Regions from separate parts of the Homo sapiens genome. Here regions 1, 2, 3 and 5 are each linked to region 4. The links come from fine-mapping of genetic effects on gene expression. A gene starts in region 4. Each other region holds a variant in brackets. All regions are shown on one strand. Distances are between the middles of the regions.

Region 1 (5,104 bases), 56 kb after region 4:
TCTTTAACAATGGAAACACACTTCACTCTAGTCTAAGAAAGGCCACAAGGTGCAGGAATTTTGTGTGGGGGCAGGAACAGTCACAAGAAACCCTGGGCCACTCTTACTATCTTTCTGCCTCTCGATTAGTTATTACCTGATTTTGGAGAGTCCCTTTCCATTTTAGAGGAGAAAACTGAACTTCCAGAAACTGGGATAATAGTCCTCAACTCCTTGGTTCTTTCCATATTGCATTTAGGGGGAGAAAAATAAGTAAAAACAAAAATAAAAGCCAGGTCCCATGGGTGCTAGGTTACATAAAAACAAGGGTGCTATTGTGACCACCTGGCAGGATTCTGAGAGTTGGGATTTTTGGAATTCAGCCTTACTTGGACTTGTATGATGAGGTACTCCAGGAGGCAAAAGCATTCAAAAACTAGCCATAAAGCCCAGGCAGAGAAGGGAGGACTGCCTCAGGGAAGACTGTGAAATTGAAAAAGCAGGTGGCAGTACCAAAGGGGAGGAGAAGCCCGTGCCTGTTTTGTGCTCTCCCATCCAGTCTGCCACCAGCCACTCCCTTCAGGCTGGGATATTGTGACAAGACTGGATATATATATATATATATTTGAGACACGGTCTTACTCTGTTGCCCAGGCTGGAGTGCAGTGGCACAACTCTGGCTCACTGCAGCCTCAACCTCGTGGGCTCAAGTGAACCTCCCACCTCAGGCTCCTGAATAACTGGGACTACAGGTGTGTGCCACCACACCCAGTTAATTCTTTAATTTTTTTTTTTTTTTTTGAGACAGAATCTCGCTCTGTCACCCAGGCTGGAGTGCAGTGGTACAATCTCGACTCACTGCAAGCTCCACCTCCCGGGTTCACGCCATTCTCCTGCCTCAGCCTCCCAAGTAGCTGGGACTACAGGTGCCTGCCACCATGCCGGCCTACTTTTTTGTATTTTTAGTAGAGACGGGGTTTCACTATGTTGGCCAGGATGGTCTCGATCTCCTGACCTCGTGATCCGCCTGCCTTGGCCTCCCAAAATGCTGGGATTACAGGTGTGAGCCACCGTACCTGGCCAATTCTTTAATTTTTTGTAAAGACACAGCCTCACCATGCTGCCCAGGCTGGTTTCAAACTCCTGGGCTCAAGCGGTCCTCCCACCTTGGCCTCCCAAAGTGCTGGGATTACAGGTGTGAGCCACCGTACCTGGCCAATTCTTTAATTTTTTGTAAAGACACAGCCTCACCATGCTGCCCAGGCTGGTTTCAAACTCCTGGGCTCAAGTGGTCCTCCCACCTTGGCCTCCCGAAGTGCTGGGATTACAGGTGTGAGCCACCACGACCACCCCAAGCTGGTGATATTTTATCTGGGCTTTTTCCCTCTGCCTCAATCCCACCCACAAATTAAGAGATCCTTACCAACACCCTCCTGTTCGACTATGGAAAAAAATGGTTGCACTAAGGATTTCTGCCCTCTTCTTCCAGATGGCACATTTATATTTTAATAGGAGACTTTGCAAACAATGTCTTTGAATCAGAGTCTAAAAGTTGAATTTCTGTTCAGTTGTGGTGATATGGGGGTGGGGTCAGGAAGAAGAGTGAATAACCTGACTGGTAATACATATGGGAGAAAAGGGACAGAGAATCTATGGCGTCTCAAGGGGGCACCTGCTGTCAATCTCAGGTGATTGTTACCATATAGTAACAATACTATGGGTCACAGATTGTCAGAATTCTGCCCCCTCCCTAGATAATCCAGAAGACTGCATTTTTTGAAACCTCAATTTTAACTAACAACCGTTTTTAAGAGTCTGGCATGGGATAAACAAGAACACATTTCATAGTTTAATTTGGATCACGGTCTGTTAATGTTTGACTACTCCTTTGAGACAGACTTCAATCATATTGCCCACAAACAGAACGAGACTGACCACTTCATTACAAACAAGGGAGATATTTACACATTTCAAAGCCACAGTTTCATGAGAATGAAAATACCTTGCCTATATTGGCAAGGGATTTTATTTGAGGAAGACAATGAAGGAAGGATTTATTTGTATTTGTCAATGGAAATAGCTTGCTTAGTTTGCTACCACTGACCAGGTATCCAACTCAAGTAGGAGGTGCACAGAATTTCACATGGTTCCTTCCTCAATTTTTTTTTTTTTT[G/TG]AGGCACAGTCTGGCTCTGCTGCCCAGCTGGAGTGCAGTGGTATGATCTCGGCTGATTGCAACCTCTGCCTCCCAGGTTCAGGCGATTCTCCTGTCTCAGCCTCCTGAGTAGCAGGTGCCTGCCACCATGCGCAACTAACTTTGCATTTTTAGTAGAGACGAGGGTTTCACCATGTTGGCCAGGCTGGTCTCAAACTCCTGACCTCAGGTGATCCGCCCGCCTTGGCCTCCCAAAGTGCTGGGATTACAGGCATGAGCCATTGCACCTGGCCCTTCCTCAATTTTTAAAAAAATTGAGATACAATTTACATAATGTAGAATTAACCACTTTAAAATGTACAATCGGGCAGTATTTAGTACATTCACAATGTTGTGCAACCATTACATCTATTTAGTTCCAAAACATTTTCATCACCATAAAATACGAAACCCTGAACCCATTAACAAACCCTTCAATGCCCAGCCTCTAGAGAAAGGATTAGGCTGCTTTCTGTTGCTATGGATTTATCTATTCTAAATATTTCATATAAATGAAACCATATATGTGACTTTTTGTGTCTGACTTCTTTTACATAGTATAATTTTTAAGATTCATTGATGGGGTAGTATGTCTGTACTTCGTTTCTTTTTATGGCTCAATGTTATCCCATTGTATGGATAGACTACACTCTATCTATCTATCTATCTATCTATCTATCTATCTATCTATCTATTTATCTATCTACCAGTTGATGAATATCTGGGTTGTTTCTACTTTTGATATTGTGAACAAAGCTATTACGAGCATTTCTATACAGTTTTTGTTTGAATATCTTTTTCCAGTTCTTTAGGGTGTAGACCTAGGAGAGAAATTGCTGAGTCAATGCGAATTTTATATTTAACTTTTTGCGGAACCACCAAAGTGTTTTCCACAGTAGCTGCACCATTTTATATCCAACCAGCAATGTAAGAGGGTTCCAATTTCTTTCCCTTCTCCCTAACACTGCTACTTTCTCTTTGTCTGTTTAAATAGCCATTCTAGTAGGTGTGAAATGGTACCTCATTGTGGGTTTGATTTGCATTTCTCTAATGACTAAGGATGTTGAGCATTTTTTTATGTGCTTCTTGGCCATTTGTATTTCTTTTTTGAAGAAATGTCTACTCAAGTCTTTTGCCCATTTAAAAATTAGGTCATATATATATATACACACAACACTTATCAGAGATATGATTTGCAATATTTTCTTCCATTCTGTAGGTTGTCTTTTTACTATCTTGATAATCTCTTTTTTATTTTTATTTTTTTACAATTAACAATTTTATTTTAGATATGGTGTCTCACTATGTTGCCCAGGCTGGTTCTGAACTGCTGGGCTCAAGTGATCTTCCTACCTCAGCCTCCCAAAGTGCTGGGATTACAGGCGTGAGCCACTGTGCCTGGTGTATAGTCTCCTTTTTAATGCCCAATACACTCAAACATTTTTAACCTTACAAGATTAGCGCTGAGAGGATTTGCAACCATATCATGTAACTCTCTCACTGTTTAAGTGGAAGAAACTAAGGGCCTGAGAGAAGGTGAGACTCCTGGGTCAAACCACGACAGGAGTAGGAAGCTCTGTTTACCATTCTAACCATTAGAATCTGTTAACACTTCCAAGTAAGTTCAAAGAAACAAGGGGGAAAAAAGTCACCCTCCTTTTGTCACACGTCCTGTGTGACTCAAACTACAGCTCTGGTTTAGTCACTCCACAGAATCCCCTGTAAGCAGTGGGCGTGACTGGCATTTCCTCTTCCTTTTAACATCACTCCTGGTTACGGTAGGGAAAAGCACAATAGTGGTAAAGAAAAGAGGAAAGAGGGCTCTGTCATGCTGTGTCTGGGATTTCCTGTTTCACGTAATATACAAATAGCTGAACAAGCCCCAGTACACACCAGGATGTCCCATGTCAAAAGGCTTACTCCACTTTTTGACGTGGTGATGGTGACATGCCTTGGCCTCAGACCCCAGGATGCCCATTTGTCCACCATCCTTGTCCTTGATCCACTCCAGGGCCTTCCCCTCTCCTGTGGATGGATGACTGGAGCCACAGTCACTCATCTCCTGGCTCCTAACATGTTTTATTCCCAAGTTAGCTGAAGGACGCCTTCTGCCTTCACACCTCTGTGCATGCTTCCTGGACCATTCTTGGTGTCTAGGTTATGATCACCCCATATTCAGCTTCGGATTTTTTTCCTTTTGTGGACTTGGGGCAGCATGTCTTCATTTAGTCTCCTTTTCTTTGGATAAATGTCCTAAATGGCTCCTTCTACTCTAATATTTAAATTTTTGGTCAACTATGTTTATTGCTATGAATCTTTCATACTATCCCTATTGGCTAAAAATCATTTTCTTTTGATAGTCTCTATCTTTTAAAAGATTGTATTTTTCCTATGTATATATCCCACTCAAACCCTATTCGAAGTCTGTTCCCATCTGGAAGCCTCTGTATTTGCTCTTCTCTTTGCCTGGAACATTTCCCCAGATCTGAAATGGTTGTGTATTGCTGATAGGTCAGGCCTCACCTCAAATGTCACTTCCTCGGAGGCTCACTGTTTCTGATCACCTTATTGAATATTGTCTTTACCTTTCCAGTCAGTGTCATGGACTTTGTTCTCTTCTCCATGACACTGTTCACTGGGAAATAGTCCTAGCTCCTTATCACTCATTGTGCCAACTGAGCTGATGTTCTCTTTGGAACAGAGATTTTAATTTTGTTTACTGCTGTGTCTCTGATGCCCCCACCATGCCTGGCACATAAAAAACTTTCAACAAGTGGTTGTTGAGCAAATGAACAGTTTTCCAGGTCACAATTGTTTATTCCATATACTCTCAGTTAACTCATTTTCCCTGCAGTACAAAGACCCCACCCTTAAACCCCCAAATCTTAGATCATAAGAAGTCATTCAGGCCAATCTGGAGAGGATTGCTCCCTA
Region 2 (5,104 bases), 21 kb after region 4:
TTGCTTGCCTGTAGATCTTTGTTCCCAGTTCAGGAGGTTTTTATTCAGTGCTTGCTTCATTTACTGGAAAAGTTCACTGGGCCCACCTGTCAACTCCTTCCCCCACAGCTTCCAGCTCAGCAGCAAACTGTAGGGAACAGATTTACTCCCCAGTTCCTACTGTAAATAATGCTTTAAGAACAGCATTCCTTTTGGACAATATGTCATAGACCCAATTTTTAATACTCCCAAGTCAGATATCTAACTAGAGAGTTTAGGAAATGTTTGGTATGATCAAACTTTTCCCTTCAGTACACAATTTAATTTACGCAGAAGAGCATCGGAGACATTTGTCTCATAGATATGATTGACATGAGTGATAGGCTAAAACTAAAATTTTAGTGGTTTGTGGAGTGGCTAGAAAACATGAATTGTAAGCAGTTTTTCAGAATTTAAAAATCTCTTAGTTTGAACAGTAGAAGATGTAAATAAGCATAGAGACTGTTGGCAAGTTATGTTTATCACAAAACAAAGAAGAAGGCACAGAGGGTCCCTTTGACCCTTGAACTTGTGGTTACTAATAGTATTAAGGTTGGAAATCATGAGGAAGGACACAGAACATAAACTGGGATCTTGAAGACAGGCATGTTGATAAAAGTAGCCCTGAAGCCTTAATATTAGCAACATCGAAGATGGGAAAGACAGGATTGATTTATTTGGGAACTAAGTTTACACATTATATGTCTCAATATAAAACAAAAGCTATGGCTTTAGAGTTTAACAGGTTAAAAAAAAATAGGAGGAAAGGCAAAACAAATGTAAGAATAGTTTTTAATCCATTTTCTCACAAGCAGTGCACAGTGGGCCGGCAGGTACTTAAGTACCTTATCCTAATCCTGGATGTGCTCATACAGGCTGTCAATTTGGGTCCGAAAGTATTTGGAAAGCTCTCCTCGCTTTGCTTTCAATGTTGGTGTCAAGAGCCCATTTTCAATGGAAAATGGCTCTGGATGAAGAAAAATGGCTTTGACCTGGAAGATGAACACACACACATCCATGCTCATTAGTGATTTGGACTTCTCTGCAGAGCCCCCTGAGTGCTCTGTGAAGAAAGTGAGGTTGATGCAGTGAAAGGGTAAAGGTAACAGTAACACATGCCCATTCCCACAAACATAATTTAAGAAAGTAATGAGTAGGGAGAAGGGAGAATGGACAATAAACAGCAAAAAAAGGGCGCTGTACAAGTAACTACAAAAGGTCATTTTGTAGTTAATGGCACAAAATCTAAAATCAATTCCTTAGAAATTATACATTTAAACCTCATTAGATGGAAACTTTAAACAAAACTTTCTGACAAGAGGCCAGTATAACATCAGTGGTAGCACACACCTGTTCAAAAGTTTTAAGGCCACTTTCTTTCCCAATTTTCTGCAAGTCTTCTAAAATGGCTTCCCTTACAACCTAAGAATACAAAACATCACTTAAAGCATGGCTGTTTCAAAAAGCCTGAAGGGCTAAGCATGAACCAACTCAAAGTGCCTGTCAAAGCCATGCAGTATGAAAGCAGGAATATAAAACTATGCACAAGCACATTATATGCCCAATATTGAAAGAAAAACTGAGAAGAAAAGGCACATCTAAGTGTTAACAGTTTTCTCTGAATAGCATTTTTACTCTTCTTTCCCAATCTTTTCCCACAATGAACATATTATTTTAAATAGAAAAGAGAGTTTTATTTTTTAAACTCTCCATCCTATCCCCGAGTCCCATAAAACTATTCAGTCTGTTTGGGCTGCAGCCACTTGTGACAGATGCAGGAACTGGTGAGGCATCCTCTCCTCCACGATGGGCCCATGGGTGTGCATAAAGCTTTCCTAGGCAAGACTTACTTGGTTTTGGCACAGTTCCTCAAAGGAGCCCTTCACCCCAAGCTTGGCTGCAAATGAGGGAAGTACATCTGTGTCAGGAACCACCACTCCTACTAAGGATGACTATGGAAAGGAAATAAAAGGTGCAAGGGCATGAGAGAAGTTATGTAGGGATGTCCCCCAGTAGTTAAATAAAGCAGAATTATGTCATTGTAATAGTTATTTCCCCAAAACCTTAAATCCAGTACTAGTGTTCTTTTCTCACCATATATTTTCAACACCATGGAACTGTAATCCCATTTTCCCACTCAATATCTCATTACAAAGATGTTCCATTCAAATCTGATCCTTCAACATTAAGCTTAAAGCGCCTCTGGCTTGTCCATGTCAACTCTCCCCTTGTCCCCTAAAAGCTACATTTAAGCACAGTGTGTATAAAACAGTTCGTTGTTTTGGGATAAGGAGTTCCTTAAAGCTACGTTTAAGCATAGTATGTATAAAACAACAGTTTGTTGATCAAACTTTTGTTTGTTGCTTTATATATATTGCAACAGTTTGTTGTTTTATACATACTGCTCTTAAACATAGCTTTAAGGAACTCCTTAAGGAATGGGAACTAAGTGCAATGTGGAGCTCATTTTTTACTGAATCATTACCTTTTAGTATAGCCATTCTAAACAATTCTACTGACTTGTGTACAACGTCCATCATAGTTTTGAAATTTTTTAAATTGAAATTGCCTTATTTGAGGTTTGGAATGTAACTTCATTTTTTTTTTTTTTTT[TA/A]GTTTTATAAGCTTGGATCTTCTCATTCTGAACCCAACTATACAAATTTCCTGTAGCTACAAGAACCAGCATGGTTTGTGACTGAAATGGGCTATTGTTAAAATGATATATTACCCGTAAGCTCTCCCCGTGTACAAAAATTTGTAACACTGGTTGACTCCTGTTGTAGATATTTTCTATCTTCTCTGGTGCAATGTATTCTCCTTGGGCCAGCTTGAAAATGTTCTTTTTACGGTCGATGATCTTCAGAGTTCCATTCTACATGAGACAGATAAAAGTATCAGTATTTTTGAGCCACAGAGATGATATCAGTGGGGAGAGTGGTGAAGTCACAGTCATCTTTCTTCTCTAAAGCTGATTTCTCCAGAGACTTTTGAGCTGTCTTTCATTTCTCTTTCTTGGCTTTGGTGAAAGGGGAGGGAAGCATCGTGCAGCAAGAACCTGTCTTTACTGTATATCTATGTGGAGAGTCAATGCGCAGCCTTAGAGAAAGTCTCCTGGATCTACTGGAGTTATGCAAATTGATGCCTCATCCAAGGAAGAAATTGCACAGCTCTCAATTTCCAATCACTAATTTCCAATTAGTTCATTTTCAGAACTCTCAGAAATAGAGGTGTTGTCTTTTGTTTAGACTTTTGATTTGATTTGAATAGTTCTCCCACCACTTGACTCCCTGTTATGTTTTCCTCCTTGTTAGATCCGGGAGCAGGCTCAAACAGCTCCACTGTGCTAATCAAGCAACTCAATTACTGGGCTTGTTAGGACAGCAACAGGGCTGAGAGGACTCTGACCAGCCACCAAAGGTCATTTGCAGCTTCATTTCTCTGAACTAATTGGTCTGAGGAGCTTAGGTCTTTAGGGATTTGAATTGTAGAATTGGGACAAATGGCAAATAAAATCCACATGCTAACACCCTAAGTAGGGCGACTAACTAAACCAACACTGGAACTATCACAAGGCCGACTTGATAAATTAGCCATCAATTCAGCCTAACGTTCATTATCTGAAAGTGATTAATAAGGTGCAGCCTTCTATAACCCTGGTGTGGGGACATATCTGTTGCTTACATCCTAGGCTTATTAGAGTGTTATTTAATTCTGTTACTAGACAGAAACAAATATATTAGCAAGATACTACCAAACCCAAATCAATAAAATGCATCGTTAGGACCAGTGTTCTTAAAAGTTACATTGTCAAGCATTCCTTAAATCTCACTTAAATCTTAAATATTGATTGAGCAAGAAAGGAGTTTTAAGTTCTAGTGACATTCCCACTTCCCCAGCACATAGTTAAGACAAAACTTTTGAGAGGGAAGATCTTTTGGGAAATCCCATCACTGCCCTTGCAATAATTTCCTTTCTTCTTAGGAAAACTAATAGCAACTACTGCTAATTATCAAGCTATGCTAAAAATATGTCTCTGTATCTTCCACAGAAAGGGGCTGTGAAGGTCAATGAGAGACAAACACTAGCCTCTGCAAACACTTGATTTAGAAATCCTTCTTCCTTGTTTTGATATGCCTGTGAATTAATAGGGAGGATATTTATCCCAAGAAACTCATAAGAGGCAAAAGCTGTGGACCAACGGCATTATCAAACCAAAGTTTTTTGGGTTTTTGTTTTGTTTTGTTTTGGTAGACACAGAGTCTTGCTATGTTGCTCAGGCTGGTCTCAAACTCCTGGCCTCAAACAATTCTCCCTCCTCAGTCTCCTAAAGTGTTAGGATTATAGGCGTGAGCTGCCACACTTGGCTTCAAACCACAACTTCTGCCTCAAGAAAAGTTAAGGGGGAAAAAAAAAGGACAGAGTAGTACATCTCCCTTCCCCTTTCCTAGAGAAGTCACCTAATTTTTCCCTGGCTGGTAGCAAATTTATTCCATTGCAGGGGACCCATGCCAACTCTGATGTGCAGGTCTACCTGACCTGTTAAAGAATCCCACCTTCAGTTTGGGTCTAAAAACAGTGCTAGGATCACTGACTTACTGCTTGCTGGTTGTATATTCGATAAGGAATAAGGCAAGAAGAAAACACTTCAACTGGTCTACATCTTGGTGTCTTCTGTAACAGTGTGATCAAAATACCAAAAGTACTCTGGCAGTACTTCTGGTGTGGTAGCTTATACCAGCAATCCCAGAACTTTGGGAGGTCAAGGCAAGAGGATTGCTTGAGGCCAGGAGTTTGAGTCTATCCTGGTCAACTCAGCGAGACCCCATCTCTATAAAAATTTTTTTTTAAGAAAGACTTTCTAGCTTTGGCAGCTCCTATTCACACGTTAAATTACTTTCTCAGAATTTTATATTGTTGATCCATGGAAGAGCTGCAACCAGAACACAAATCTCATGACTTCCAGCCTATATATATATATATATATATATTTTTTTTTTTTTTTTTTTTTTTTTTTTTTTTTTTGAGACAGAGACTCGCTCTGTCCCCCAGGCTGGAGTGCAGTGGTGTGATCTTGGCTCACTGCAAG
Region 3 (5,104 bases), 29 kb after region 4:
GGACAAATTTCAGGTGGAACTGAGACTTAAAAGGAAAAAATGGAAAATGGTAAGTTTGCCAGAAAATAAGGGTGAAACAGTCTTATGAAATATTGGGGGTTAGGAAGTCCTGTCTAAGCAGTTTAAAACCTACAAATAGAAAAGATTATTTAGTTTGACTATAAAAACATTGGAAATTTTTATATGGCAATACACAGGGCAAAAATGATGAGACCAGGAAAAATGTTTCCAACATGACAAAAGTTAATATTACAGGTTGACTATTCTAATCCAAATGTTTGAAATCCAAAATGTTCCAAAATCCAAAACTTTTTGAGTGCCAACATGATGTTCCAAGGAAATGCTTTTTGGAGCATTTCAGATTTTGGATTTTCAGATTCAGAATGCTCAACTGTTTTATAATGCAAACATTACAAAATTGGAAAAAAATGCAAAATTCAAAACACTTTTAGTCCCAAGCATTTCAAATAGGGAGATACTCAACCTGTATTACTCTGTGAAGAACTCTTAGAAATATAAAAAAGGACCAAATTATCTTTTGCCTGTTTTTCTATAAGGAAGTAATAGAATAATTCATGGATAAAATATACATGTCAATAAGCAATAGAAAGATGTTTGGTGTAAATAAAAGAAACAAAACTGTAATAAGATTTTTCATTTATCTGATTAGCTAATATCTGAATGACTGATAAAGTCTGTCACTGGCAAGAGCATGGGCAAATAAGGCCTTGTATACTTGCAGAAATGTGCAAAAAAGATCTTTCTGGAAGAAAGTTTGATAATATACATTATTACACACACACACACACACACACACACACAGATACATTGTGTGTATTACTTTGACCCAATAATCCCTTCTTGCGTGGATTTATTCTAGATTATTAATTGATTATAACAATGAAAAATATCATAAGCAACTCAAGTGTCCATTAATAGGAGATTAGTTATTTGGGTACGGTTGACCCTTGCACAACACAAGTTTGTATGGCACAGCTCCACTGATAGGTGGATTTTCTTCTGTCTGTGCTGCCCCTGAGATAGCAAAACCAACCCCTCCTCTTCTTCCTCCTCAGCCTACTCAACATGAAGACAGTGAGGATGAAGACCTTTATGATGATCCATTTCCACTTAATGAATAGTAAATATGTTTTCTCTTCCTTATGATTTCTTAAATAACATTTTCTTTTTTCTAGCTTACTTTATTGTAAGAATACAGTATATAATACATATACAAAATATGTGTTGATTAATTACATTATTGGTAAGGCTTCTAGTCAATAGTAGTCTACTAGTAGTTAAGTTTTTGGGGAGTCAAGTATTTTTTTTATTTTTATTTTTTTGAGATGGAGTCTTGCTCTGTTGCCCAGGCTGGAGTGCAGTGGCGCAATCTCAGCTCACTGCAAGCTCCACCTGCCGGGTTCACGCCATTCTCCCGCCTCAGCCTCCCGAGTAGCTGGGACTACAGGCGCCCACCACCACGCCCAGCTAATTTTTTTGTATTTTTAGTAGAGACAGGGTTTCACCTTGTTAGCCAGGATGGTCTCTATCTCCTGACCTCGTGATCCGCCCGTCTCAGCCTCCCAAAGTGCTGGGATTACAGGCATGAGCCACCATGCCCGGCTAGGGAGTCAAGTATTATACATGAATTTTTGACTGCCATGGGGGTAGGCAATCCTAACTCTTGCATTGTTCAAGGGTCAACTACATTCAGTAAACTACTGTGAAATCATTAAAATGATGCTGAGCTTTATTTGACAAGGAGCAACATTAACAAGTGTTTTAGAGCACTGGTTTTATTTATGTGAAGGTTTCTACACACAGATGCCTGAAGAGATGGTTAGAAGGATATTTTCTTTGGATTTTGAGAATTTAGGTGACTTTCATTTTGGTACCTTTTAGTTGTTTTCATTTTTATTTAAACAGTGAGCCTGTTTGTGCAAAAGTAAAATAGCCTATTCTCAAAGAAGGTGCTTGGCTTACCTGACATCCCATTGCTGCCCGGAAGAATGTCATGACTGAAGTGGACATGGGGGCAGCTCCAGTGACAATTACACGAACCCTTCCGCCCAGGCTGTCCTGTTCAGTGGAAACAAAAGACATACTAAAACCTATTCTCTTGGCTTCAATTTCCTCCACTGTAGAGTGGGTATAATAGCCTGTGCAGCGTTGTTATGAGAATTAAACTGACATCAATTCTCACGTTAATTTACAAAGCACTTAGAATACAGTCTGGATTGTAGAAAAGCACTTAAAATGTTAGCTATTATTGTCATCACTATCCATAGCTGGGACCAGAAGCCATATATTTCTCAAATAATTTGTATTCTTCAGCCCCTCAAATTGCTTATAATCTCAACAGACCACCAAAGAAAATAAGAGAGAGTGCTAGAACCTAAATAAAACTTTTTTTTTTTTTTTTGAGATAGAGTCTGGCCCTACTGCCCAGGCTGGAGTGCAGTGGTGCTATCTCAGTTCACTGCAACCTCCACCTCCTGGGTTCAAGCGATTATCCTGCCTCAGCCTCCCATGTAGCTGGGATTACAGGCACCCACCACCACGCCCGGCTAATTTTTGTATTTTTAGTAGAGACTGGGTTTCACCATGTTGGTCAGGCTGGTCTTGAATGCCTGACCTCAGGTGATCTACCCACCTAGGCCTCCCAAAGTGCTGGGATTACAGGTGTGAGCCACCACACTCAGCCTGCTTTTTTTTTTTTTTTT[A/TTTTTA]AACCTACTCCCTTTAGTAGTAAAGTGGTACAAGAAAGATCTCAAAAGGCAGTGGACACAAAGTCTGAAAGGATCTCTAGTTAAAGTGACGCTCAAGCAGCAGAGGAAAAGCAAGGTCTAAGGAGTCAGAAGGCAGCCCAGGTATTTGCCTGCTTCAGTCCAGGACCTGCCCAACCTACCTGGATCTTTGCAAAGATGAGCTTGTCCCAGAAACTATCATGCCTGATGATACCCTTTTGAAGCTCTTTGAATTTACTGGAAACAGCCAGCTTCAACAAGAACTTCTTCAAGGGTGTCTTGGCCTCATTTTGTACCTGCAGAGTGATAGCTCCTTTTAGTTGGAAACCTATTGGAGATACTCATCAAAGCCATTAGTGAGCAAGAAACAGTGTGTTCTAGCTTTATAAGGAAGTGGTCTCACAGTCTCACAGTCATGAATTGGATTGCTGAATAATGATGAGCCCAGAGAATTATGGCCATGCTCAGAAAGAAGTGAACTTAATGCAGAGCTCCAGTCCTCCCACTTCCTGCCCCAATTTTTAGTCCTTGGGAAACAACTTGACAACTGAGATAAAGAGGGACTGCCTAAAAAGTCACCTGGGGGGTACTAGATTTAAAACAAACAAACAAACAAAAAACACAGCTCAATGGGCACCACTTCTAGGGCTTTTGATTTAGTAGGTCAAAGGGCAGCCTACGAATCTGATTTTTTTTTTTTTTTTTTTTTTTTTGAGACAGAGTCTCGCTCTGTCGCCCAGGCTGGAGTGCAGTGGCGCCATCTCGGCTCACTGCAAGCTCCACCTCCCAGGTTCACGCCATTCTCCTGCCTCAGCCTCCTGAGTAGCTGGGACTACAGGCACCCGCCACCACGCCCAGCTAGCTTTTTGTATTTTTAGTAGAGACAGGGTTTCACCATGTTAGCCAGGATGGTCTCAATCTCCTGACCTCGTGATCTGCCCGCCTTGGCCTCCCAAAGTGCTGGGATTACAGGCGTGAGCCACCACGCCCGGCCCAGGAATCTGATTTTTTAAAACAAGTATCATGTCTTCCTCCCTCTCCCTCTGTAATGCTTATATAACTGAACTTGGAGAATTCCCACCCTTCCCTATAAACAAGGTGTCTTTAGCCACACCATACAAACCCCAACAGAGTTTCCTACCTTCCTACTAAAATGATTTCTTCCCTTTGGGCTTAATTCTGACACCATTTTTCCAGCTCGCATGATTTCCCTGGTCTCCCTGACTCTGACCTCACTGTGACCCTACATTCCATCAACCACACTCCTGCCAAAGGAGAGCTTCCCCAAGTACAGCTCAAAGTGACCCCTTATTTCCAAAATTTAGTCCTGAACTCTTATCTGGCTTTCAAGATTCCACCCTACTGGAAGTCAGATTCAAGGCAATTGAAGTCTTTTTTCTTGTTCAAAATTTGAAGAATCCCTCTCCATCCATCTTCCATGTTTATAACCCCATTTTTGGGCCTCCAGCCAAGCAGGGGTGATAATTTTCATCTTCTAATGTAAATTGTGCTCTAGGACATAAGCATCTTCTTATGCCTATAACATTATCATTGTACCAGTATGTCATAATCTGTCTCCAAGATCCATGCTCAAATGCTTCCTGCATCATGCCATTCTTAGAATCTCCCTCAACTAAAAGAGATTTATCTTTCTTCAACATTCACAAGACTCACCCTCCCTCAACAAGTCACTGACAAAGAGCTAGTATTAGAGACGTGTGCTAATAAAGTCCTTCATTTTAAAAATACATTCCAGGGAGATCGAGACCATCCTGGCTAACACGGTGAAAACCCGTCTCTACTAAAAATACAAAAAATTAGCCGGTCGTGGTGGTGGGCACCTGTAGTCCCAGCTACTCAGGAGGCTGAGGCAGGAGAATGGCACGAACCCGGGAGGTGGAGCTTGCAGTGAGCCGAGATCGTGCCACTGCACTCCAGCCTGGGCGACAGAGCGAGACTCCGTCTCAAAAACAAAAACAAAACAAAAAAAAAATACATTCCAGAAGTGAACTGTGTATTAGGTATTATATTATACAATAACTATCTCTGAAAAATAAAAAATGTACAACAACAACAACATATGAACAAAAACCATAACAACCACCAAATCTACTAATTGCGTAGCATGGTAAGAAACTGCTGGAATTGTTATCAGTTCTGCTAGAACACTGCCTGCCCTGTCACCAGAGCCCATTTAGCATCTGCTGAGAGTCCTAAGAGTGAAAGGAAGAGTTAAAATCTTGGAGGTGGTTGGGGAGGTGGGGGAGGGTTCCAAAGCATGTGAAGAATGGCCATGCATTACTTCCTCACGGATCCCAGCCCGAGGAATCATCACATACTATATTGCCTGGGTTCAAATAGCT
Region 4 (5,104 bases):
GGAGAAAAGCAGAACTGAAGAGAAGAGGCGAGGTGATGTATCATGAAGAGATGAGGCCATCAGCCACTTTCGACACAAAAATCTCTGAGGCAGCAGAGCTTGGTGGTATATACTACCTTGGTTCTCTCCTCTTGTTCCCTTACTTGGACTCATAAACCTCTTTAAGACATCATCCATCTCCTCCAGAACTAACTGGGGACTTCAGGAGATGAGTGGGGTATAAGTTCAGAGATCCTGGCTTCAAGCAAATATCCCTATTAACAGAAAATAGGTGAGGGGAAGAAAAACAAAGAAATAAGGGAAGAAAATTACTTATAAACACATAAGTTTTGGGGGAAGTAGGGAAAGGGAAAGAGGAATGACAACTTAGGTCCGGGAGAAATTATTGCTAGTACCAGGACAAGTGGGCAAGTGAAGTGCCCACCAATCCGCAGATTAATGAGCACATCCACCTTTCTACACTTTATATCCTGGAGCTAGGGTAGGGACAAGTCTAGCAGCCAGATGATGGTTCAATTTCCCTAACAAAACTAAACAAAAATGTAAAACCCTTTTCTGTAACTAACTACTCTAATCTGTAGAGAAAGATAGTCCCCGAATCAACATTGTACAAACCATAGTTACAAAAGATCATATTTATATTCACCTGCTCATTCACTTATTTTCCTGAGCCCCTAATAAGTAAACGCCAAGGAAATCAGACACAGCTCCCACCTTCACATAGTTGACAGTCTAGCATAGAAAATAAGATGTGCTAAAACACAAAAGGAAACACAAAAACAAAAACATTTCCAGATGGGAGATGTGAAATTTTTAAGTGTGAAAAATTATCTTGTACCAAGTTTTACATGAAACTGGGTTATACAATAAATCCCCAAGAAGGATGAGAAACAAGAAATGGGGGTGGGGGGTATGAAAAATACTAATGCTAATACAGCAACTAACAACACCAAAAGTGACTTTAAATATGTTATATAAATTTAATCTACCTAACAACCCCATGAGAGAAGTACAATTTTCCCCCATTTACTAAGAAGGAAAGTTGAAAGAGACTAAGAAGTCTGTTTAAGAGGCACAACTTTTATTTTATTTATTTATTTGAGACGGAGTTTCACTCTTGTTGCCTAGGCTGGAGTGCAATGGCGAGATCTTGGCTCACTGCAACCTCCGCCTCCCGGGTTAAGAGGCACAACTTCTAAGTGACAGAGGTAGGATTTGAATCTAGGCACCCTGATTCTTACCTCTATTTTGCCGCATATAATTATAACAATATTATTACTAACACAACAACGCCGCTGTAGATTGTAGATCCATAGGCTACATACTTTCATTCATTTTCTTTGAATACTCACATGTCTATAATTTACAAATGAAAACATTAAGACTCTTAAGACGTTAAGAAACGTTTCCAGGTTATGCAAGTTACAAGAAGGTAGAGCCGGGATTCGAACTCAGATGGCTCAGATTCCGAAGGCTCTTTTCACGGCACCCCACACCCGAACTTGACTCCTTACCCTCAACCAAGCCAAGCCGTATCCCTCCTGGGAACAGCCGGCACCACCCACTCCAGCCTCGCGCCTCATAGACACACTTACTCGGGCGGCGTTCCACCGCCCGCACCCTCCCAGCTCTCCCCAGCACCCTCGTCCAGCCGGGCAAGGCTCTCACCAGGCGGGAGTCGTGGGACCCTCGCAATCTTGCTGGTGATCTCTGCAGTGAGCACCGCGAAGTCCTGCTCGTAACCTTCGAAGTCGGACGACATGGCGGCTCCGGAACGAGTAGCCCAGGCCAAAGCCTAGGTCAGGGAAAGGGCCTCGAGGGGCAGCGAGGGGCCCCGCGGCTTAGGAACCCCGGAAGGTGCCCCCGAGAGCAGAACGGAGAACCGGGGACAGCTCTCAACCCAGCCGCTTCCTGGTTGTTCGTCGCAATCTCGGTTCTCCGGAAATTGGGTTGCGTGCGTGCTTTATTTTCCGCTCCGACTTTAAGATAAGTAAGTTCGCAAAGGAAAAGCGCCCCAATTAGTGCCTCCCCCCAGAAAAGCGTATGAAAATATGCAAGTTCTGAGGGATCATTAGAAGCGTTTTTTCCCCCCTTCGTGTTCTGGGAATCGGCTCCGGATCCACACGCTACAAGGCACAGCAGCTTGCTTCCGGAGGGAGGTTTGAGGCGGCGAACCTCCGGAAGTGACAGTAACAGAGACTGCGCAGGGGGCCTGAGCGGGAGAGTCCTGGCGAGGGCGCTGGCCGAGAGGTGCTCGGCTTGTAGCAGGTCCCGCACTCCAGCCTCTCGCTGCCAGGGTTTGCTCTCTGCTTGTCCTGGGCTGAGGTGTCCATGACGGAGTCATCCAAGGAGGAAAAAATCTGTTCCGGGTGAGCCCAGGCCGCCCCGGATATGCGATGGCTGAGGAGCAGACACCAGGGACCACACTGAGGTGGGAGTCAAGGCAGGGAATATAAGCACGATTTTGGTGGTCTTTGTCCCACCAGAGTGGGAGCAGGCTCTCCTGAATGTTGAGACCAACCTGGCTTACCAGGATATTTCTTCCTTGGGTGAGGATTTATTTCTAAGCCCTCTGCTCCATGACTCGGGCGGGAAACTGAGGCACAAGTCAACAGCGTCTGCTGCGTGGTAGTCTGTATTATCCATGTAGCTCAGATCCTCTTCCAGATCTTCAGATCCAGTCCAGGCAGAGATGCCCTTCCACAAATCTCTCCGGAGCTCGCCGCCCTGCCTTCCATTTCCCTCGCTCCTGGAGGCACTTCCTCTTCTTTCTTCCCTCGAATCTTCTAATTCAGGTTCTTCTCATATACTCTTCTGGTCATAATTTCACACACACCACACACACTCTCGCTCTATCTCCTCCCTTCCTTTCCTTGCATGCTCTCTTTGCTTTCACTGTCGCTCCTTTACTTTTGGGCCAAATTGACTGTTCTCTTGATGTTTGGGTGGCGGGGTGGAGGAGACTGCAGGCAAATGGCATAGACCATGTCTGACTCATACTTGGCTTAATTCAAGACTTCATAAGAGGCAGCTTAGAATTTCATAAAGGGAGGTCGTTGACTTGCCTTCTATTCTGGTTCACCTGTTACTTGTGACCTTGGTCTAATCACTCAGCCTCTCTAAGACAATTTCTGTTCTATGAAGAAGGAAACTGAATTAGATCAACTCTAAGGTCCTAAAATTCTTTGTCTTCTCAAACTATTCACTAAGCGTTGGATGGTGACAGTCCCCTGACAAGCGGAGAAGGAATAAAAAAAACTATTTTGGAATCGTGTATCCAGTTTGCATGCCATTCAAACTTGTACCATATTTTGGATAAGTCAAAAGTAGTTCTTTTTGACATTTGACAAGATATGCATCCCAAAGTGTAGTGCACTTGTGAGATGCTGTTGTGTAGGTGTTTATTGTAGTTAACAAGTATGGTATGCAATAAAGGTTTTGTTTTGTTTTGTTTTAACTGAACTTTCCCATTTTGTTTTCTTTAGGTTGGGTTTCAGACCAAGACACTGGATTCTCCTAGTTAAGATAAAGAGCTTTGGGTGCCTGACAGTGAAAATGGTGTAATCTGCGTTAACAGTTCACAGCTTGAAGGCATGACAATTAAAGAACACACATGGACTTGTGGCACATGGAAATGTGCGCACAGAAAAAGGAAATCTATAATTCTTTTAAAGTAGGAAGGCATTCTTCCTTGCCAAAATGGGTACATTCTGTTCGGTTATCAAGTTTGAAAATCTACAAGAATTAAAGAGACTGTGTCACTGGGGTCCCATCATAGCCCTTGGTGTTATAGCAATATGTTCTACCATGGCCATGATTGACTCTGTGTTGTGGTATTGGCCCTTACATACAACTGGAGGAAGTGTGAATTTCATCATGTTGATAAATTGGACTGTCATGATTCTTTATAATTACTTCAATGCCATGTTTGTCGGTCCGGGCTTTGTCCCTCTGGGGTGGAAACCGGTAAGAAAGATTCTGTAAGACAATGAACTTTAATGATAATCGTATATTTGGTTTTTGCCTTATCTACTAACCAATAATACCAAACACAGCCTACTGTTTGTCCTCACAGAGACTAAGTATATTACTCTAATCACTGATCATTTAGGCTCGGAGACTTTATTTCATATCTGTTTGAACACATTGATCCAAAATAGCATTTTCCAAAGCAATTTTATTGAATATTTGCTCTGCATTAAAAAAAAGATGGAGGTGGGGTGGAGGTGGGATAGGTTCATGGTCAAAAGTTTAGGAAACATCACATGTCATACACAGTGAGGTTTGGCTGTAGTACCTTTTTTCATGTAATACATTAACATCCCTTAGAACTGAGAAAAACGCTTTAGAAACTGCTGGTTTAAATCATAAAGTTTTAAAATCATTGCACTGAAAATATAACATTGGGAAGTATAGTCCAAATCCATTTATAGCTTAAAAACTACTGGGAAATTTATGCTTATGAATGTCCATGTTTCCTGCTAAGGGACCACACCTGATGGCTTGTCAGAAAGGCAGAATCTTGGGCTCCACTTCAGACATACTGAAGCAGAATCTTTATTTTAATAAAGTGCCCAGGTGATGCTTAGGTATATTAAAGTTCGGGAAGCACTGGTGTATATCATGTGCTATGTACTATTCAAAATGCGTACAGAGGAGGGTAAGATGTAATTTGAACTCTGAAAGAGCTTATAACCTAAGCAAGAAACAAACGCACTTGTGCAAATCACTAAACTATAAAGTAGAACGTGATGGGTGCTGTTAAAGTTAGAAGAATTGAGCATTGTTAGTTGGGGACCTGAGGGAGGAGTGGGAATTTCCAAAGGAGATGGGGAAGAGGGCATTTCAGGTTGAAAGAATGGTGGGACCACGTATTCAGAAACAGTAGACAGCCCTGTGTGACTGGGGAAAAGATCATGTAGGGCAGAGACAGCTGAAACAAAGGCAGATTGTGACAGTCTTAAATACATGAGAAATTGTAGACCATAGAAAGTTGTAGGGGTTTTCAGGCAGAGTCTGACACAGTCAGAGGTGTATTATAGGAATATTATTTTGACAATACACGGTTTGTGCTGAAGAAAAACTACAGTAAAGGAAACTAGTT
Region 5 (5,104 bases), 78 kb after region 4:
AAAGGTTCTCCACGTCCCCACTAGATTAGCTAGATACAGAGTGTGGACACAAAGGTTCTCCAAGTACCCACTAGAGTAGCTAGATACAGAGTGTCCATTGGTGCATTCACAAACCCTGAGCTAGACACAGGGTGCTGATTGGCGTGTTTACAAACCTTGAGCTAGATACACCGTGCCGATTGGTGTATTTACAATCCCTTAGCTAGACATAAAGGTTCTCCAAGTCCCCAGCAGTCAGGAGCCCAGCTGGCTTCACCCAGTGGATCCAGCACTGGGTCACAGGTGAAGCTGCCTGCCAGTCCCGCGCCATGAGCCGGCACTCCTCAGCCCTTGGGGTGGTTGATGGGACTGGGCGCAGTGGAGCAGGGGCCGGTGCTTGTCGGGGAGGCTCCGGCCACACAGGAGCCCACGGAGGGTGGGGGAGGTTCAGGCATGGCGGGCTGCAGGTCCTGAGCCCTGCCCCGCCGGGAGGCAGCTAAGGCCTGGCAAAAAATCCAGCACAGCACTGGTGGGCCGGCACTGGTGGGCCGGCACTGCTGGGGGACCCAGCACACCCTCTGCAGCCGCTGGCCGGGGTGCTAAGCCCCTCATTGCCTGGGGCCGGCAGGGCCAGCCGGCCGCTCTGAGTGCAGGGCCCGCGGAGCCCACACCCACCCGGAACTCGGGCTGGCCCGCAAGCACCATGCGCAGCCCCGGTTCCGCCCACGCCTCTCCCTCCACACCTCCCCACAAGCTGAGGGAGCGGGCTCAGGCCTCAGCCAGCCCAGGAAGGGGTTCCCACAGTGCAGCAGTGGGCTGAAGGGCCCCTCAAGTGCTGCCAAAGTGGGAGCCCAGGCAGAGGAGGTGCCCAGAGCGAGCGAGGGCTGTGAGGGCTGCCAGCATGCTGTCACCTCTCACTTGGAAGGTCGATGGGAAGGGGCAACGTGGAGCAGGGGGCGGTGCTCGTCGGGGAGGCTCTGGCTGTGCAGGAGCCCATGGCTGGTGGGGTTGGGTGGGGGAAGGCTCAAGCATGGCAGGCTGCAGGTCCCGAACCCTGCCCCACAGGGAGGCAGCAGCTAAGGCCCAGCGAGAAGTCAAGCACAGCAGCTGCTGGCCCAGGTGCTAAGCCTCTCACTGCCGGGGGCCAGCGGGGCAGGCCTGCTGGTCTGAGTGCGGGGCCTGCCGAGCCCACGCCCACCCGGAACTCTCGCTGGCCCACAAGCCCCGCGTACAGCCCCGGTTCCTGCCCGCGCCTCTCCCTCCACACCTCCCCGCAAGCTGAGGGAGCCGGCTCCAGCCTCAGCCAGCCCAGGCAGGGGCTCCCACAGTGCAGCACGGGCTGAAGGGCTCCTCAAGTGCCGCCAAAGTGGGAGCCAAGGCAGAGGAGGCGCCAAGAGCAAGCAAGGGCTGTGAGGGCTGCCAGCACGCTGTCACCTCTCACTTACTGTATTTGGTCAGGTGACCAATACCAAAATCAGAAGCTAATACCACTTCCTGTTGACTCTTGTGTGGAGGAGAGACTAGCATATTAACATAGAAGTCTTCTTAGGTCAGATTCTCATGTGCATTAACTTTTTTTTTTTTTTTTTTTGAGACGGAGTCTCACTCTGTTGCCCAGGCTGGAGTGCAGCAGGTCTGTCTTGGCTCACTGCAACCTCTGCCTCCTGGGGTTCAAGACATTCTCTTGCCTCAATCTCCGGAGTAGCCAGGACTACAGATGTGTGCCACCACACCTGGTTGATTTTTGTATTTTAGTAGAGATGGGGTTTCACCATGTTGGCCAGGCTAGTCTTGAACTCCTTACCTCAAGTGATCTGCCTGCCTCGGCCTTCCAAAGTGCCAGGATTACAGGTGTGAGCCACTGTGCCTGGCCGTTTTTTTTTTTTTTTTTTTTTTTTAAGACAGGGTCTCACTCCTGTCACTCAGGCAGTAGCAACATCATGGCTCACTGCAGCCTTGACTTCTTGGGCTCAGGTAATCCTCCCACCTTAGGCTCCTGAGCACTGGGACTACAGGTCAGTGCCACCACACCATTTAGGTAACGGTCCGTCCTCTCTCCAGCCACCTACGTTTGCTGAGCCACAGAGGCCTGGATTCTTCAAAACACAGGATTTTTCTTTTTTTGACATAGGGTCTTCCTCTGTCACCCAGGCTAAGTGCAGTGGTGCAATCTCGGCTCACTGCAACTTCCACCTTCTGGGCTCAGGTTATCCTCCCACCTCAGCCTCCAGAGTAGCTGGGACTACAGGCATGTACCGCCATACCTAATTTAAAAATGTTTACTAGAGATGGGTTTTGCCATATTGCCCAGGCTAGCCTCTTACTCTTGGGCTGAAGTCATCCACCCACTGCAGCCTCCCAAAATGCTAGGATTATAGGCATGAGCCTCTGCACCCAACCTGGTTCACTAACTATTTTTTTTTTT[TA/A]AGAGATGGAGTTTTGCTCTGTCACGCAGGCCAGAGTGCAGTGGTGTGATCTCAGCTCACTGCAACCTCCGCCCTGTGGGTTCAAGTGATTCTCCTGCCTCAGCCTCCCAAGTAGCTGGGACTACAGGCGTGCACCACCATGCTTGACTAAGTTTTGCATTTTTTAAGTAGAGATGGAGTTTCACTATATGTTCACAAGGCTGGTCTCAAACTCCTGACCTCAGGTGATTTGCCCGCCTCGGCCTCCCAAGGTGCTGGGATTACAGGGATGAGCCACTGCACCCAGTCTGTTCATTAACTCTTGAAGGTCACGTTTTTGCTAGAGTCTTAGTCCTTCCTTAGTATGTGAAAGAAAAGGGCTTCTAAGAAGTGGCTAAAGAAGACACAGTTCAATGGGGACTAGGGGTGTGACAACTACTTGACTGGACTAGAGTCCAGTTGTGTTAAGTAGCAACCCACTGAACTCCTTTGATACCACACTTACTGGAGAGTAAGATACTCCAAGCCAGTGGTTCCCAAACTTCAGCATCACAATCCCCATGGAGGGCTTGTTAGTTACAACATAGATTTCTGGCTAGAATTTCTAACTCCGTAGGTCTGATCTGGGGCCCAAGAATCTGCATTTCTAACAATTCCAGGTGATACGGATGCTGCTGCTCTGGGGACCACCCTTGGACCACATTTAGGATCATCTCTGCTTCAAGCAGCTATCCTGTCTTCAAAGGGCCCGGCTACTGAAATGTCACAAGGGATTGCATTTGGGGTAGTCTTGGCTATGGTGAGCCTGCAGGTGGGGGGAAAACTTGACACAGAATGGAACTCCTCAGATGCTCCAGGAGAGAGGTGGTCTTCAAAAGCAGCCAGCAGGCCAAGTCTCAGAGAAGTGCTTTGGCCACAGCAGGAGGTATCGGCAGTCACGGTCGCACCTCTTTAGGGAAATATAAAACAAAACTCACAGCATCACCACTAGACAGCCCAGGTGGGTATGAGAGTGGGTGTGTGGGGGACATCAGCTGATCCAACAACAGTCATTTTACTTGTGAGGGTACCTAAAATGCCAAAAAGTGAGGCAGCTGGCTCAGGTGATGTATTAACTAATGAGAGAGATAAGCCCAGGACCCAGGTCTCCAGTGCCCGAGCAGGCTACACCATCTCGATAAACCACTGCTTCCTACAGCCTCTCTCTTCAAAAACGTGTTAGATAAGCTTCTTTGCAACACGCTCTGTCACTCCCTCCCCTCCTACAGCCATATCCATTTAGAATCCAATACGAAAATTAATAACCTTTAGGCTTGGGCATCCTGCAGCCCCTAAAAAGTACAAACTTTCACTTTTAAGGTCATTCATAGGTGAGGTCTGGAGGAGTGAGGAGTCTGCCCCACAGCTACAACGCTGACATACTCACAACCATGCTGCTGGGATCTGTTTGTATACAATCCCGCTACAATGCTGACATACTCACAACCACACTGCTGGGAACTGTTTGTATACACTCCCACCCTCTTCCTAGGGCCAAAGAAACCACACATGTACTACACAATGTTGTTCTAGAATACTAGAGTCTAACATTCTAGAGTTTTGTAACACAGCCTGGAAATAGTCATTTTATCTTTAATGGCAGAGGCTGGCAACTCTTCAGAAACAGAAACCAGGCTTTCCCCTCGTTTTATTTTATTTTATTTTACTTTTGAGATGAAGTCTCACTCTGTTGCCCAGGCTAGAGTGCAGTGGCACAATCTTGGCTCACTGCAACCTCTGCCTCCTGGGTTTAAGCCATTCTCCTACTTCAGCCTTTCGAGTAGCTGGGATTACAAGCACCTGCCACCATGCCTGGCTAAATTATTATTATTTTTGTGTATTTTTAGTAGAGATGGAGTTTTACCGTGTTGGCCAGGCTGGTCTTGAACTCCTGACCTCAAGTGATCTGCCTGACTTGGCTTCCCAAAGTGTTGGGATTACAGGTGTGAGCCACCGCACCCAGCCCCCCATGTTTTAGAAAGCAGAGAAAGACAGACAATATAAGCAGACTAACTTTACATAGTGCCATCATGCATTCACATAGCTCCTCCCGGTTTATAAAATGCTTCTAGTTTGCCTCTTAGCAAACCTGTGAGGTCTGAGTGGGAACAATACTTTCAACATCCAAACTTCCAGTGGCTGCTGGGAGCCAGGTCCTGTGACAAACACTTCATTTGACCCTCACAATACACTTGGAAGGTAGTTATGATTTGTACAGACAAGAAAAATAGAAGCTCAGAGAAATGACATCCCTTCCCAAGATCCTATAGCTTGGTAACAGAGTGATGACGGTGGTGGGGCCAAGTGTTATTTTTTAATAATTTCAGGCGATTTTGCAAAGCCAAGTGATTTGCAGCTTGTCTCTGAAAATCTGCCTTTCTTTAGGAAGCACAGCTGGTTGCAAAGCAGATTTCACAGCAGGTTGAGACGAGTCAGGCAGAGCAACCAAATGTTACTTAAAGGTCTTAGTGAATATGTCCAGATTCCAGAGACCACTGAACCTAATGAAGTCCTTTTTTTTGAGACAGGGTCTCGCTCTGTTGCCCAGGCTGGCGTACAGTGGCACAATCTTGGCTCACTGCAACCTCTGCTTCCTGGGTTCAAGCAATTCTCCTGCCTCAGCCTCTCGAGTAGCTGGGATTACAGGCACCTGCCATCACACCCAGCTAATTTTGTTTTGT

Which allele goes with the higher level. Alleles are on the strand shown, and positions count from the first base shown. SD is a standard deviation of normalised expression in the study named. Not every link is listed here.
For the expression in lymphoblastoid cells of the gene that starts at base 2,222 in region 4, allele A in region 3 goes with a higher level than allele TTTTTA (small effect, 0.37 SD a copy in TwinsUK).
For the expression in monocytes of the gene that starts at base 2,222 in region 4, allele TA in region 5 goes with a lower level than allele A (moderate effect, 0.44 SD a copy in Fairfax 2014).

What was found.
Region 1: its variant is fine-mapped to the expression of ZDHHC6 in whole blood (INTERVAL, PIP above 0.99).
Region 2: its variant is fine-mapped to the expression of ZDHHC6 in whole blood (INTERVAL, PIP above 0.99).
Region 3: its variant is fine-mapped to the expression of ZDHHC6 in lymphoblastoid cells (TwinsUK, PIP 0.95).
Region 5: its variant is fine-mapped to the expression of ZDHHC6 in monocytes (Fairfax 2014, PIP 0.95).

What each region holds. Positions count from the first base shown.
Region 1 is chr10:112,388,417-112,393,520 of GRCh38, reverse strand. The region is part of intron 1 of ACSL5 (acyl-CoA synthetase long chain family member 5); the gene reads right to left. Among named protein-coding and RNA genes, the nearest start is that of ACSL5, 17 kb to the right of the region's middle. RefSeq lists silencers at 3,843-3,892, 3,913-4,042. The variant G/TG (reference allele first, on the strand shown) is at 2,153.
Region 2 is chr10:112,423,124-112,428,227 of GRCh38, reverse strand. It overlaps ACSL5 (acyl-CoA synthetase long chain family member 5), which reads right to left. Exons shown (of 21, transcript NM_203379.2): 18 at 2,747-2,890; 19 at 1,869-1,970; 20 at 1,369-1,440; 21 at 1-1,010. The coding sequence ends at 870. It also overlaps a transcript of ZDHHC6 not described here. Among named protein-coding and RNA genes, the nearest start is that of ZDHHC6, 21 kb to the left of the region's middle. The variant TA/A (reference allele first, on the strand shown) is at 2,632.
Region 3 is chr10:112,414,821-112,419,924 of GRCh38, reverse strand. It overlaps ACSL5 (acyl-CoA synthetase long chain family member 5), which reads right to left. Exons shown (of 21, transcript NM_203379.2): 13 at 2,903-3,037; 14 at 1,984-2,079. Among named protein-coding and RNA genes, the nearest start is that of ZDHHC6, 30 kb to the left of the region's middle. The variant A/TTTTTA (reference allele first, on the strand shown) is at 2,724.
Region 4 is chr10:112,444,032-112,449,135 of GRCh38, reverse strand. ZDHHC6 (zDHHC palmitoyltransferase 6) reads left to right here and starts at 2,222. Exons shown (of 11, transcript NM_022494.3): 1 at 2,222-2,431; 2 at 3,486-3,966. The coding sequence starts at 3,700. VTI1A (vesicle transport through interaction with t-SNAREs 1A) reads right to left here and starts at 1,921. Exons shown (of 8, transcript NM_145206.4): 1 at 1,669-1,921. The coding sequence starts at 1,762. RefSeq lists enhancers at 1,856-2,115, 2,316-2,435.
Region 5 is chr10:112,365,921-112,371,024 of GRCh38, reverse strand. No RefSeq gene overlaps it. Among named protein-coding and RNA genes, the nearest start is that of ACSL5, 5.6 kb to the left of the region's middle. The variant TA/A (reference allele first, on the strand shown) is at 2,405.